3 linked regions of the Homo sapiens genome follow. The protein of the gene in region 3 interacts with the protein of the main gene of each other region in a biochemical or structural test. Each region holds a gene or a part of one and is shown on either strand. Other genes may lie near its edges.

Region 1 (3,749 bases), on a different chromosome or scaffold from region 3:
TCTTGGAGGGTATAGCGCCTTGAATTTCCAGTCCTATGCAGGATCACAGTCCTGACTTCTTGTATAGGCCCAAGTCCTTGTCTTTAGTTTCCTGTGCACCTATTAAAACTCTAGAGATTTCTGAGATAAGTAGGTGCCCTCAACACAACCATGGCTTCACTGCCCTGCTTACCACTCTGGTGTCCTGCCCCTTCTTCAGGTTGAGTGTGAAATTTGGAAGACTGTCAGAAACATTCTATTTTCATTCTTGCAAGTTATGCCTTTGAAAGGATGTCTTATTTATCCAGTGTTTCTGTGTGTTTAATAATCAGAGCATTTTTCAGGTTATCTCTTACTGTGCCATGTTGCTCCTTGATTCCTTTCTCTCCTGTACCCACTGCATCAATTGAGTTTTTTGCTCTACATTGATAGAGAAGCACAATTCCTCTTTCTTTCCACTGCCTTCCTACTTTATTTCCCTTCTATTCTTGCATCTCTATACTCCATTATCCACATTGCAGTCTAGTGATCTTAAAGTGTAAGCCAGGTAACATCGCTTTCCTGCTTAAAAAAGCCTTTTAATGGTTTTTTGTAATATAGACTTTTTACCATGGCATTCAGGATCTTTCATGACCTGAATCTTGTCTGCTGTAGTGTTTTCTTAATAGTACCGCCTTCTTGTTCTAGGCCCCAGCTACACAGGCCTTCTTAACTGACCGTAGCAAGCCCTTTTCTTTCTTCTCCTGCCTGTATTGCTTTTCTCTGGGTGCTTCTTATTGCTGTCTCTTTCTGTTCTTGCCTTAAGTGTCACCTCCTTAACGAGGCCTTCTCCGACCACCCTATCCAAAGTAACCTCGCCAAGTTTTTTCTTATACCAGGTGTGACTACTTTAATTACTGCGTCCTCATATAAGCTCCACAAAGGCTTGGTGAATCGTGTTCACCCTTGCATTTCTTTTGTGTTTTTTGTTTTGTTTTTGAGGCATGACGACTCTGTCACGCTGAAGTGCAGTGGCCCGATCTTGGCTCACTGCAGCCTCCTCCTCCTGGGTTCAAGCGATTCTCCTGCCTTAGTCTCCCGAGTAGCTGGGACTACAGATGCGTGCCACCATGCCCAGCTAATTTTTGTATTTTTAGTAGAAACGGGGTTTCATCGTGTTGGCCAGGCTGGTCTCGAACTCCCGACCTCAGGTGATCCGCCTGCCTCAGCCTCCCAAAGTGCTGGGATTACAGGCGTGAGCCACCGCACCTGAACCACCCTTGTATTTCTGATGCTTAACAGTGTCTAGTCCATATCAGACACTCAAATATTTGTAGAATAAGTGAAACATTGATGAACTCCTCCGTGGATAAAATAGGGAAGTCTTAATTTGCAAGGAGGTGATACTTAATTTAGCAGCAAAATTTTAGTTAAGAATTTGTAAGCAAAAAAGCAAAATGGATAACGGATGAATTCCCAGAAACAAATGTCGCGGAGCAGATGTGTATAACAGCAATCGTCTGTCAGCGTCTTCCGTCGGCAGAGACCTGCTTGGAGACAATGCTGAATTAAATGAGGGACTGGCTGCTCCTCTCAATACAAAGACTACCCAAGGAATAAAAGCAACGTCTATCACCGAACTACTACTCCCAGCGGCCCCCGCGCGGGCCTGCCCATGGGAGGTGGCGCTCGTCTCCGCCCCGGGGAGCTCCGGCTTCGGGGCGGGAGGGGTTCTGGGTTCTGGCCCCGCCCCGCCCCGCTCCCCGCCGTCTTCCTCCCCCAGGGTTGTGGCCACGCGCAGCGGCGGCGGTTGTTCCGCTTCCCCTCCGGCCCGGGCCGTCGCCATTGCCGAAGGCTCCCTCCCCTCCCCTCCCTGGCGTGCGCAGGACTCCGCCGCCGCTGGGCCTAGCGGTAGCAGCGGCTGCTCCAGCGCGGCGTCTCTTCCCGCCCCGCTTCCCCTTCCCTCCCCTCCCCTCCCCGCACCGCGCGCTAGCCCGGGGCGGCTCCGCAGCCCGCCGGGAGCTCTGACCGAGGCGCCTCGCTGGGGCGGGGACCTTGCCTTGCCCGGGGTAAGTGCACACAGGCCGGCCGGCGCGGGACGCAGGCCGGGTCTCTTCCTCCTCCTTCCTTCTCCGTGGCCTGGCGGGCGGGAGCGGCCCGGGACGGCCGACCTGCCCCGCGCGGGGCCGGGGAGCCGCCACCTGCGTGCTGGGAGCCGCAGCTCCTGGGGCGGTGGCTCATTGTCTGCTCCCCAGGGCCGTTTTCTTCGCTGGCTTTAGCCAGAAATGGGAAGCTCGCTGGGCTGCGGAGGTCTGACTCTTCCTGGACCCAGCCCTGCTCTGAACCTCGCGGCACCACGGTCTCTGCCGACTCTCGGTCTTCCCTCCCCTCGCGTTTCACCCTCTTCCTTTGCTCCGTTTTCTTAATGCTGGACCAGACTCTCCGGTTTTGTTCCTTGATTTTTCCTCTCACTGATTCTCAGCCCCTGCTTGCTCGCTCTCTGTTCACCCGTTTCACTGCTCAGGAATATTGTCGCGAGTAGCTTGACTGTTTTCTCAGCTCCAGCCTGTAACCTCTTTTCCACATTCCACATTGGTAAAAACGTAGAGCGTCCCGGGCGCTTGAGGGCCACCGCTTACGAACTGATCTTTCGGAGCTTCTCCTCGCTCCTGTTTGAGCTTCAGCCTAGGGGTGAAATTTGCTTCTTTAGATAACTTAGGTGAAGTTAAGATTGGTTTTTCACCATGTTTGGCTCTCTTGGAAACACACGCACGCACAAACACAAAACGTTGCCACTCAACCTTTTAACTAATTCTTTAAAGATAAGTCATCCAAGAACAGAAGCGTGTCATCGTCAGTGGGTGTGAGGTTGTACCCATCCTTGTATCTTAATTTTAGTAGTACTCTCCCTGGGCAGTGTGAGCGTGATTTGTTGTCCCTTGATAAATAACGAACTCCGGTTGATATCATTATCTCACTTCTGCGTTACAGGCGATGTGTCCTTTCTTTGTTTTCTTTTTTAACCTTTATAAAAAGACAAAATGGTTAGGCCTAAAATTAAACTACGAAGAGCTGTGTTTTGGATCAAGGTTGTGCACGTCACGTTTTTTCCCCTGCTGTGTTCGACTCTTCCGCTCTTATAAGTAGGCAGGATATTGAAATGTACAAGAATTTGCTCTGGGGATTTTGTTTTTGTAGGGTTGTCCAATAGAATAACACTCAGTAAAGTTACATTGGGATGAAGGCAGTGAATAGTAATTTTTAAAGCAGGTTAAAACTTGTCAACTTTGCCAGAAGGTCTGTGGCTTCTGTAAAGCCCACTCATGCTCGTGTATATATGAAGAGCCTTTTTCATGTTCTGTTAGGAGTATGGATTTCAGGCAACTTTTTCACTGTGTCATCCTCGGCTATTAAATCTTTCGAGCTACTTATTAGCCAAGCACATTGATTGACACTTATTACGGAAAGTGAACCTGTAATAGATGTAGGTCTTAAACCAACTTTCCGATTTGGTAACAGGTTGACCTAAATTCAGTGTATTTTGTGTTTTCACTAAGTAGCCCATTGTTACCTTTCCCTCCAGCAAGGCTCTGAAAAAAGTGGCTCCAATACTCAGCTTCAATACTGTCATCATTTCTTAAATAGTAGTATCAGTTGTCCTTAACTTAATGGATGTTTTATTGGCCTGAGGGATTAAGGTGTAGAAAGGTTGGAGTTTTGTTGGAGTTTGAAACTTGGTCTGTAGATGTTGGCTTCTCTGCCAGTTTCTTCTAATCAGCAGATATTTTTAT
Region 2 (3,749 bases), on a different chromosome or scaffold from region 3:
ATCTGTGAAGCATGGATGGAGAAAGAACTGTCTCTTAGAATTTCACACATCTCACAAAAGAGTAAGATGCTCTTGTTACTAAGCTTGTGCTATATCTGCTTTGGGAGGGAATATATTCTTACAAATTAAAAAAACACAAAGCCAATGGCAAGATTCACGATGCCTGCTAGGGACTGGACCTCTGCCCCCTGTCTCTCCGGACCAACAGGTGCCATGGTCCTCTTGATCTCCTGTGCCTGACCATCCCTGCAGTGAAGATGGCCAGGCCAACCCTGACTCCAGGGGCTCTAGGTCTCCATGTGAAGTGGTGACCATGAGCCCTCCGGGTGAGAGCAGTCTGCCTTTCCCCACTCTGAATGAAGAACTGCCCAGGGCTTGCCAGACACACACCTCAAGTTACCATAGGTCTAGAGTTTAATTACAGATTATGTTTATGAAACATGCTGGCTGGGAAGTCCTCTAAAAGGGAAGAAAGTATTTCAGGTCATACCTAAAGCACTTCTCCTAATGGTGGCTGAAATTCAGACCTTGACATTTTGAAGGCCCACTGATCAGCTGTCCTAGCTGGGCCCCCTTGAATTTTTCTCAAACCTGTCTCTTAATACGTTATTTGGTGTTTTCCATGTTTGCTGTTAGTTATCTCATACCTAAAGGGCTATTATCATTATTAATATTTTTATTTTTTGAGCCAGAGTTTCGCTCTTGTTGCCCATGCTGGAGTGCAATGGCGTGATCTTGGCTCACTGCAACCCCTGCCTCCTGGGTTCAAGTGATTCTCCTGCCTCAGCCTCCCAAATAACTGGGATTACAGGGATGCACCACCACACCCAGCTAATTTTGTATTTTCAGTAGAGATGGGGTTTCACCATGTTGGTCAAGCCGGTCTTGAACTCCTGACCTCAGGTGATCTACCCGCCTCGGCCTCCCAAAGTGCTGGGATTGCAGGCGTGAGCCACCACGCCCAGCCCTATTATTATTTTTGACAACAACAGCAAAGATCTGCCCATCCGACTGCAGGAATTTAATACACAGCCTTTGTCAGTGGTAGAAATTCTATCACTGTATGACTCATGAGTACATAACAATGTGCTATACCATACTTCCTCTTTGAGGGATAAAGCCCCTGCACTCTAAGGGAGGATTTCATTATGCATTTCTCTTATATCACCAGAAAATTATTTAGTGGAAGACAGTTTAATATTTGACAGCTTTGAACCATTTTTTTTTCTCTTTCAACCAGTCTTTTTACATTGTCTGCTTAAAAACAGGAAACCACATATCTCCACCCCAGCACAACCCACCATCCACCAGCACAGACCGTATCATTTTGGATCTACAGTCTTTTTCTTCCAAGCCTGGCCAGGTGCCTGCTCCTACTTTGCAGGAAACCCCTCCAGGCACTCCCGGTGCGTGTTCTCAGAGCCCTTCTGAGAATATTCAGGATTGCACTTCCTGGGCTGCAGCGCACCCTGTACCCTCCTTTTTTAAGCCTCCTCCCCTGAGTCACTGCTACCCTTCCCTCCTCTAACTTCCCCTTCTCTGCAGCCTCCTTAGCAATTTCTTATCATAAAGTTTGTTTTAAAGAAGAACTGCCCCTCTAAAAAAATAATAAACTGTCGAGGGCGGTAGCCCCGTCTAGAGGTTTCCGACTTTGCTCTGTGCCCACCTGAAGCCTCCCCAGCCCGAGGTATTTGAACTTACATTCAGTGCTTCACGTCTCTGTCCGGGGTGCCTCTGTCTCTCAACTCTGACTTCTGAGTACTGGCAGTTAGAACAGGAAGGAAGTCAATGAGAAAAAAAAATGTTTTAGACCTACTTGAAGAGGAAACCCTGGGCTGTCTCAAATCCTGTTCCTTTGCACTGCCTATCTCTTGATCAGCCAACTTGAGCAGCATTCTTGTCAATTAATGGCACATGTGCGAGCATGACAGCCCGTGTGACGTGGAGATGCATGAATGTACACGCAAGAGTGTGGAGCCTATAGCTATGGGTATTATGAATAATTGTGAGGGTATTTCTGATAATCAGGTCATTGCAGTGCATAAGCCTATGGAGGTAAGGAGCCTGAAACCAGTAGCAATAAATTCACATCGGCTTTACTTTGTACCACTCACTTCTGTTCCCACTGGGTCCCCGCCAGCTTCATTATCAACCAGATACGTTGAAAGTTTGCTGGCAGTGAATGTAGAGTGCTAAGAAATGATGATTGTTAACTGCATATACTACGGTCCTAAATTTAAAAATGTGTCCTTAAACAGATTTTTGGAGTTTTGTTGGTTATAATTTCAAGACGTAGCTTTGTATTGCACTACAAACAGTCAAATATTGTTTTTAATAGTTTTGGCTGATTTTTCTTCAAATGAAACAAACAAGCAAGCGAAAGTACTGTCTTTGATGAAACCTAGGAAAGAAATTACAAAAGGAAGTAAAACTTCATTAATTCATAGTCTTCCAACTCAGAATTTGTGACAACTTAACAAGTGCCAAAATAGACTTTGTACCATATTTGAGGAAATGGTTTATGAAGTAATTTAAATGGGAACAAGTCTCGGAGGCCATGTTTAAACCATCTGAGGAACAGTTTTTAAGCAGCCAAGTCACATTCATGCTGTATATTCCCGTAGCTGTTACCAATAATAAATGCTTATTTAGGTTAATATTTCAATATTCAGTATTTACACTACATCAATATATTTAGATCTGACTAAGCACACAAATTTGGAGAAACTGACGTTTATTTTGTTTTCACCTAAATGTACTGCATCTTCTTCATTTCCCTTTGTAAATTGATACCACAGGGTTTGCCTTCTACTTAGAGTCAATGAAATCGGAATAATCAAGGGAGTCATTTCACGTGAGAAGAGATTAGCCTAGAAAAATATGAAAAGGAAAATAGTATATAATTAAAATGAGCAAAAATACTAAAAGCCTAATACCACTTTATTCTATAAATTTTAAAATAGCATAGACAGAATACAGCCCTTGAAACAATGTACATAACTTTATTGTAAAAACAAAGCAAACCCTAATTTACACAGAAGGCAGTAACTTACACATTCTATAGCTCTGCACCCTCAAGAGGGGATACATTTATTCATTCCATAACATTTATCGAGCACCTCTTTTCTTTCAAGTACTGTTCTAGTTCCCTTGTGCAGCAATAGACCGCAGGCGACATCTCTGCTGCCCTGTGGAACTTATGTTGTACCTAGGAGACAATTAAAATAACACAGGCAGAATACATTAATTGTAACAAGAAATATTTAAAAATGAAAAATGGTAAATGCATGGTCTCTATTCCACCACTCATTTCTCATGTTATTAGGGAACACCTCACTAGGCAAACCTGGCTTTTTTTTTCCCTCCAGAGCCCAGTGTATATCGGAGGGTATGGGAGCACCCCTTCCCAGAAAAATCTGTAAAATCAATACATATTTTACAGATTTGTATTATAGATTAATGTATTTATTGGGGGATGAGAGAGCATTCATAATTTTAGAAAGTTCTAAAAGGACTCCAATTATCAAAATATACTTAATTCCTGGTCATATGCAAGGAGCCACGGAAAGGTACAGAAATAAACAAGACACAGTCCTAGACCTCAAGTAGCTAAAAGATGTAATGGGGAAGACAGAAGCAGACAAATTTAATTTTTTTTTTGTCAGCATAGGAAAAGAAAAAATACATGGTGTGTTTTGAGAGTACATGTAAGGACATCAAGGAAGGCTTTTTGGAGGAAGTGACCACTG
Region 3 (3,749 bases):
CTGGCGCACACAGCTAGGGAGGCTGATGTCATCCTGTCCACTGGAATCCCAGGCTGGATTCGCCAGTTTACCGAAGAGAGGATTTCAAATGAAAGTGAAAATTAAGTGCCAAATGATTCAACCTCAATTAGCAGCACACATTCTTCCATGCAGAGCTGAGCCCTGCCTTCCTCCCCGGGGTCGGGGAGGCAGTCATGACGGAGCAACAGGAATGGGCTCAGCTCTGTTCTAGAAACTGGCGCGATGGCAGGGAGTGAGGCAGATAAGGGCCCCGTCCTCAGGGAGCTTCCATCCAAGAGGAGGAGTGGCAGCAAAGGAGCAGCAAGATGAAGTCGGGCTGTCGGGGGGCCTATGAAGACAGCCAAGCAGGGTGGTGGGATGGAGAGGGCAGGTTGGAGACGGGGGGCTGCTGTAGACAGGGGGTCAAGGAGGCGATGTTTAAGCAGGGAACTGAATGACAGGAAGCAGGGAGGGTTCTGGGTGTCATAAAGGGGAGTGAAGAGGTTCGGGGGAGGCAGAGATCATCAAGGCAGTCTGTGTACTTGGAGTGAAGTGGGTAAGGGGTGTGGTAAATGAGGCTGGGGAGACGGGGGCTGTTGTTCACGGTTTGCGCATTAAGATGAGTTTTAAGTGTGAAGGGAGCCACAGGAGAGATTTAGGCCAGGTTAACTTTCAGTTGTTTTTTGGGAGGCTCTTTTTATTTTATTTTATTTTTTGAGACAGGGTCTCACTTTGTTGCCCAGGCTGGAGTGCAGTAGCACAATCACAGCTCAATGCAGCCGCACCCTCCTAGGCTCAAGCGATCCTCCCACCTCAGTCTCCCGAGTCGCTGGGACTACAGGCATGCACCACCATGCCCGGCTAATTTTTGTATTTTTTGTAGAGATGGGGTTTCTGCTCCATGTTGCCCAGGCTGGTCTCGAACTCATGGGCTCAAGCGATCTGCCTGCCTCAGCCTCCCAAAGTGCTGGGATTACAGGCATGAGCCACGGCGCCCAGCCTAACTTTCAGTTTTAAAAGCTCACCAGGGCTTCCGTCGAGCTTGGTTCTAACGAGGTGAGGTGTAAGGGGGCGCCCCTCTATGCCACAGGCACACGAGGGCACTGTCTTCCTGCCATGTTTCTGTATCCCCAACACCTAGCACGGGGCCATCCACAGAGCAGACTCAGGCTCCCCATCTGCGAAACGGGGGATTTGATGCAAAGAACTCACAGGGCCCTGCCGGCTCCAATATAGGGTCTATACAACAGAGCAGGCGGCAAGAGCCAATCACGGTGCAGCCCCACGAGTCCTGGCAACTGATTGGCTGCTCAGGAAGGTGTCAGTTCCGAAGGTTCAGGTCCATCCCTTTGCTGTTAACCCCTCATGGCTGGCAGCATGGGGAGCCAGCTCTCAGGCTTATCTGATCTTGTATCTGCAGCAGGGGCCTCCCCAACCCCCAGCAAACCTACCATCCTCAGCCCAGAAGCTCTCTCCACCTTAATCTCAGGTGCCAGAGATTTGGGGCTGCCTGTTTTTCCCAACCCACCTTCTCTCCCTCTTCCCCCTCCAATGTCAAGGGCCCAGTGTGACTATTTTACCCTCCCTTCACAGGGGCACAGGCATTGGCAGTAGCAGGATCCCGCTCTGGGGTCTCGTCTGGGGCTGAGAAACTTTGTGCCTGAAGCCATATGAGGGTGTGAGGCAGGATTCACCACAGAACTTGCAAGACCCAGTGCAAAATGGAAGTACAGGGCCCATGCTCAAAAATGATTAAGAATTTCAAGATGTAGACATCAGAGTATTAAACAAGGTGCAGGACCCTTCTGAGCATGGGGCCCTGTGCAATTGGATAGGTGGCCACACGCATAGAGCTGGCCCTACTGGGATACCTTCACCCAATCCTTCGGAGAGACTTGGGAAGGTAGATCTGGTCGGGCCTATTTCTCCAGCTTCTGTGATGTTGTCCAGGACAACAAAGTCCACTAGGGGCCACCAGGGATCAGGGACCTCCAGGCTGCTGAGAGCACCTGGCCATAACCTGGCCTCAGCAGCCTCAGCCATCCATCTCAACGTACAAGGGAGGTGCCTGGGGAAGGAGCTTGGGACTTCCAAGCCTCTACCTCTTATAGAAAAGGAGATTGAGGCTCAGAGAGGGGAAGTGATTGGTCCAAGGTCCTTCAGCAAGTGGGTCCTTCAACTCAGCCAAGATGCACAAAGGCGGGACAAGGTCTCAAGCCAGCATCCAGAGACCCAGGGACAGAGGCAGTGACAACACACTGCTGGTGACCATGGCCTTGAGCAGGAGCTGCCTCACCTAATTCTCCCTCCCTGCTCAGGTTTGCAGCCAGCCCTCCCTTGGCACTTAGAGGCACCTGATAAACGTTTGATAGTTGATGGTGAGTGGGCAGGAATCCTTGTTCCCATTTTGTATATAAGGACAGGACCAGAGAGGGGCACTCACCAGCATCAGGACCGAGCTGGGGCAAAAGCGGCTTTCTAGGCTCTCTGCTAGGGTTTCCCTGCCCTCTCCTGGCTGCCTGCCTTCCTCTAGCCTGGGCCAGGGCATCTAAGGCAGCTGAGCAGAGTGTCCCGGGGAGAGACAGCAGCAGAGAGAGCCCAGCCCACCCAAGTCTGGGGTTGGGGGTTGGGTAGTGAGGAATCCTCTGGGGTGGGTTGGAAGCATCTCGGCTCCAGGCTCTCTTCTCCCTTCTGCCTGCCCTCCTCTTCCTAGGAGAGCCTGATCCCTGCCCCTGAAAGGGGGGTTCATTAAGATCAAGAAATGAGGGCCCCCGCGAGGTTCTGCATGGACCTTGGCTCTGAAGCTGGACAGGACCGTGTAAGCCTGGGAGGCAAGCCTCTTAGTGGCTGTGAGGCTCAGCTTCCCCATGGGTGTCCTGTGCATGCTAATAGCCATCTCCCAGGGGGATCAAATGAGATCACACATGTGTGACATCTTGCGCAGGGGCCAGCATGTGGCAGGCCTTTGCTAGATGGTGGCTATGATCGATCTTCCTGTGGTCCTTCCCACGATGTCCAAGTCAGGTCAACTCAAAACACATGTGTTGTGTGTAAGGTAATGCATGTGTCATACCATGTAGAAGACACTGTGCTGAGATAATGGGAGACCCACAAAGAGCTGGCCATGGCTCCCTGCCCTCCACAGGCTCATAGTCATGGGAGAGATCAGATAAAGTCACTCTGGGGAGTGGAGACCCCTTCGTGGTAGATCAGAAAGGCTTCCCGGAGGAGGGGGCACTGGAGCTGCGCCTGGAGGCTTTAGACAGGTGGATGTGGGGAGAAAAAGCACTATGGGGAGAGAGAACAGCTTGAGCAAAGGCCCTGGGGTAGAAATGTGCAGGGAGCTTGTGGCGAACAGTAGGGTCCGGAGGAGGCAGAGTGTGAAGCAAAGTAATGGGTAATAAGGCCAGGTGGGAGGTTGAGTGAAGGCCATCAGGAGCCTTGAGTGCCATGCTAGGGAGTCGGGGAAATGTCCTAGGAGTGATGGGGACCCCTGAGGGCTGGCCAGGGAGGGGCTGGTGCCTCCCCAGTCATCCTTCCCTCCTGAGTCTGACACCAACACGCTCCCTCCACGTCCGATGACAGCCCTGCCTCCGCATCCTGCAATAGAGCGCAGGGCCTCCCAGGCCTGCAGACAGCTCTGTTCCACCCCTCAGCATGCCTTGTCCCCAGGTGTCCCTGTTCCTTGGAGTCAGGCTCTCTGGATCACCTCCTCCAGCAGCCTGCTTCCGCAGAAGCTCCTCTCCCAG

Evidence for each region.
Region 1: the proteins of RAC2 (region 3) and PAK2 form a complex in vitro, tested with the Homo sapiens proteins (one study listed by BioGRID).
Region 2: the proteins of RAC2 (region 3) and ARHGDIB are reported together in a solved structure, tested with the Homo sapiens proteins (one study listed by BioGRID and IntAct).

What each region holds. Positions count from the first base shown.
Region 1 is NC_000003.12:196,738,131-196,741,879, forward strand, and holds the start of PAK2 (serine/threonine-protein kinase PAK 2), read left to right. Parts: upstream 1-1,726; 5' UTR 1,727-2,027; intron 2,028-3,749. UniProt on the Homo sapiens protein: Serine/threonine protein kinase that plays a role in a variety of different signaling pathways including cytoskeleton regulation, cell motility, cell cycle progression, apoptosis or proliferation.
Region 2 is NC_000012.12:14,959,836-14,963,584, forward strand, and holds the start of ARHGDIB (rho GDP-dissociation inhibitor 2), read right to left. Parts: upstream 1,767-3,749; 5' UTR 1,702-1,766; intron 1,446-1,701; exon of another isoform or gene 1,319-1,445; intron 1-1,318. UniProt on the Homo sapiens protein: Regulates the GDP/GTP exchange reaction of the Rho proteins by inhibiting the dissociation of GDP from them, and the subsequent binding of GTP to them. Regulates reorganization of the actin cytoskeleton mediated by Rho family members.
Region 3 is NC_000022.11:37,237,539-37,241,287, forward strand, and holds part of RAC2 (ras-related C3 botulinum toxin substrate 2), read right to left. Parts: intron 1-3,749. UniProt on the Homo sapiens protein: Plasma membrane-associated small GTPase which cycles between an active GTP-bound and inactive GDP-bound state.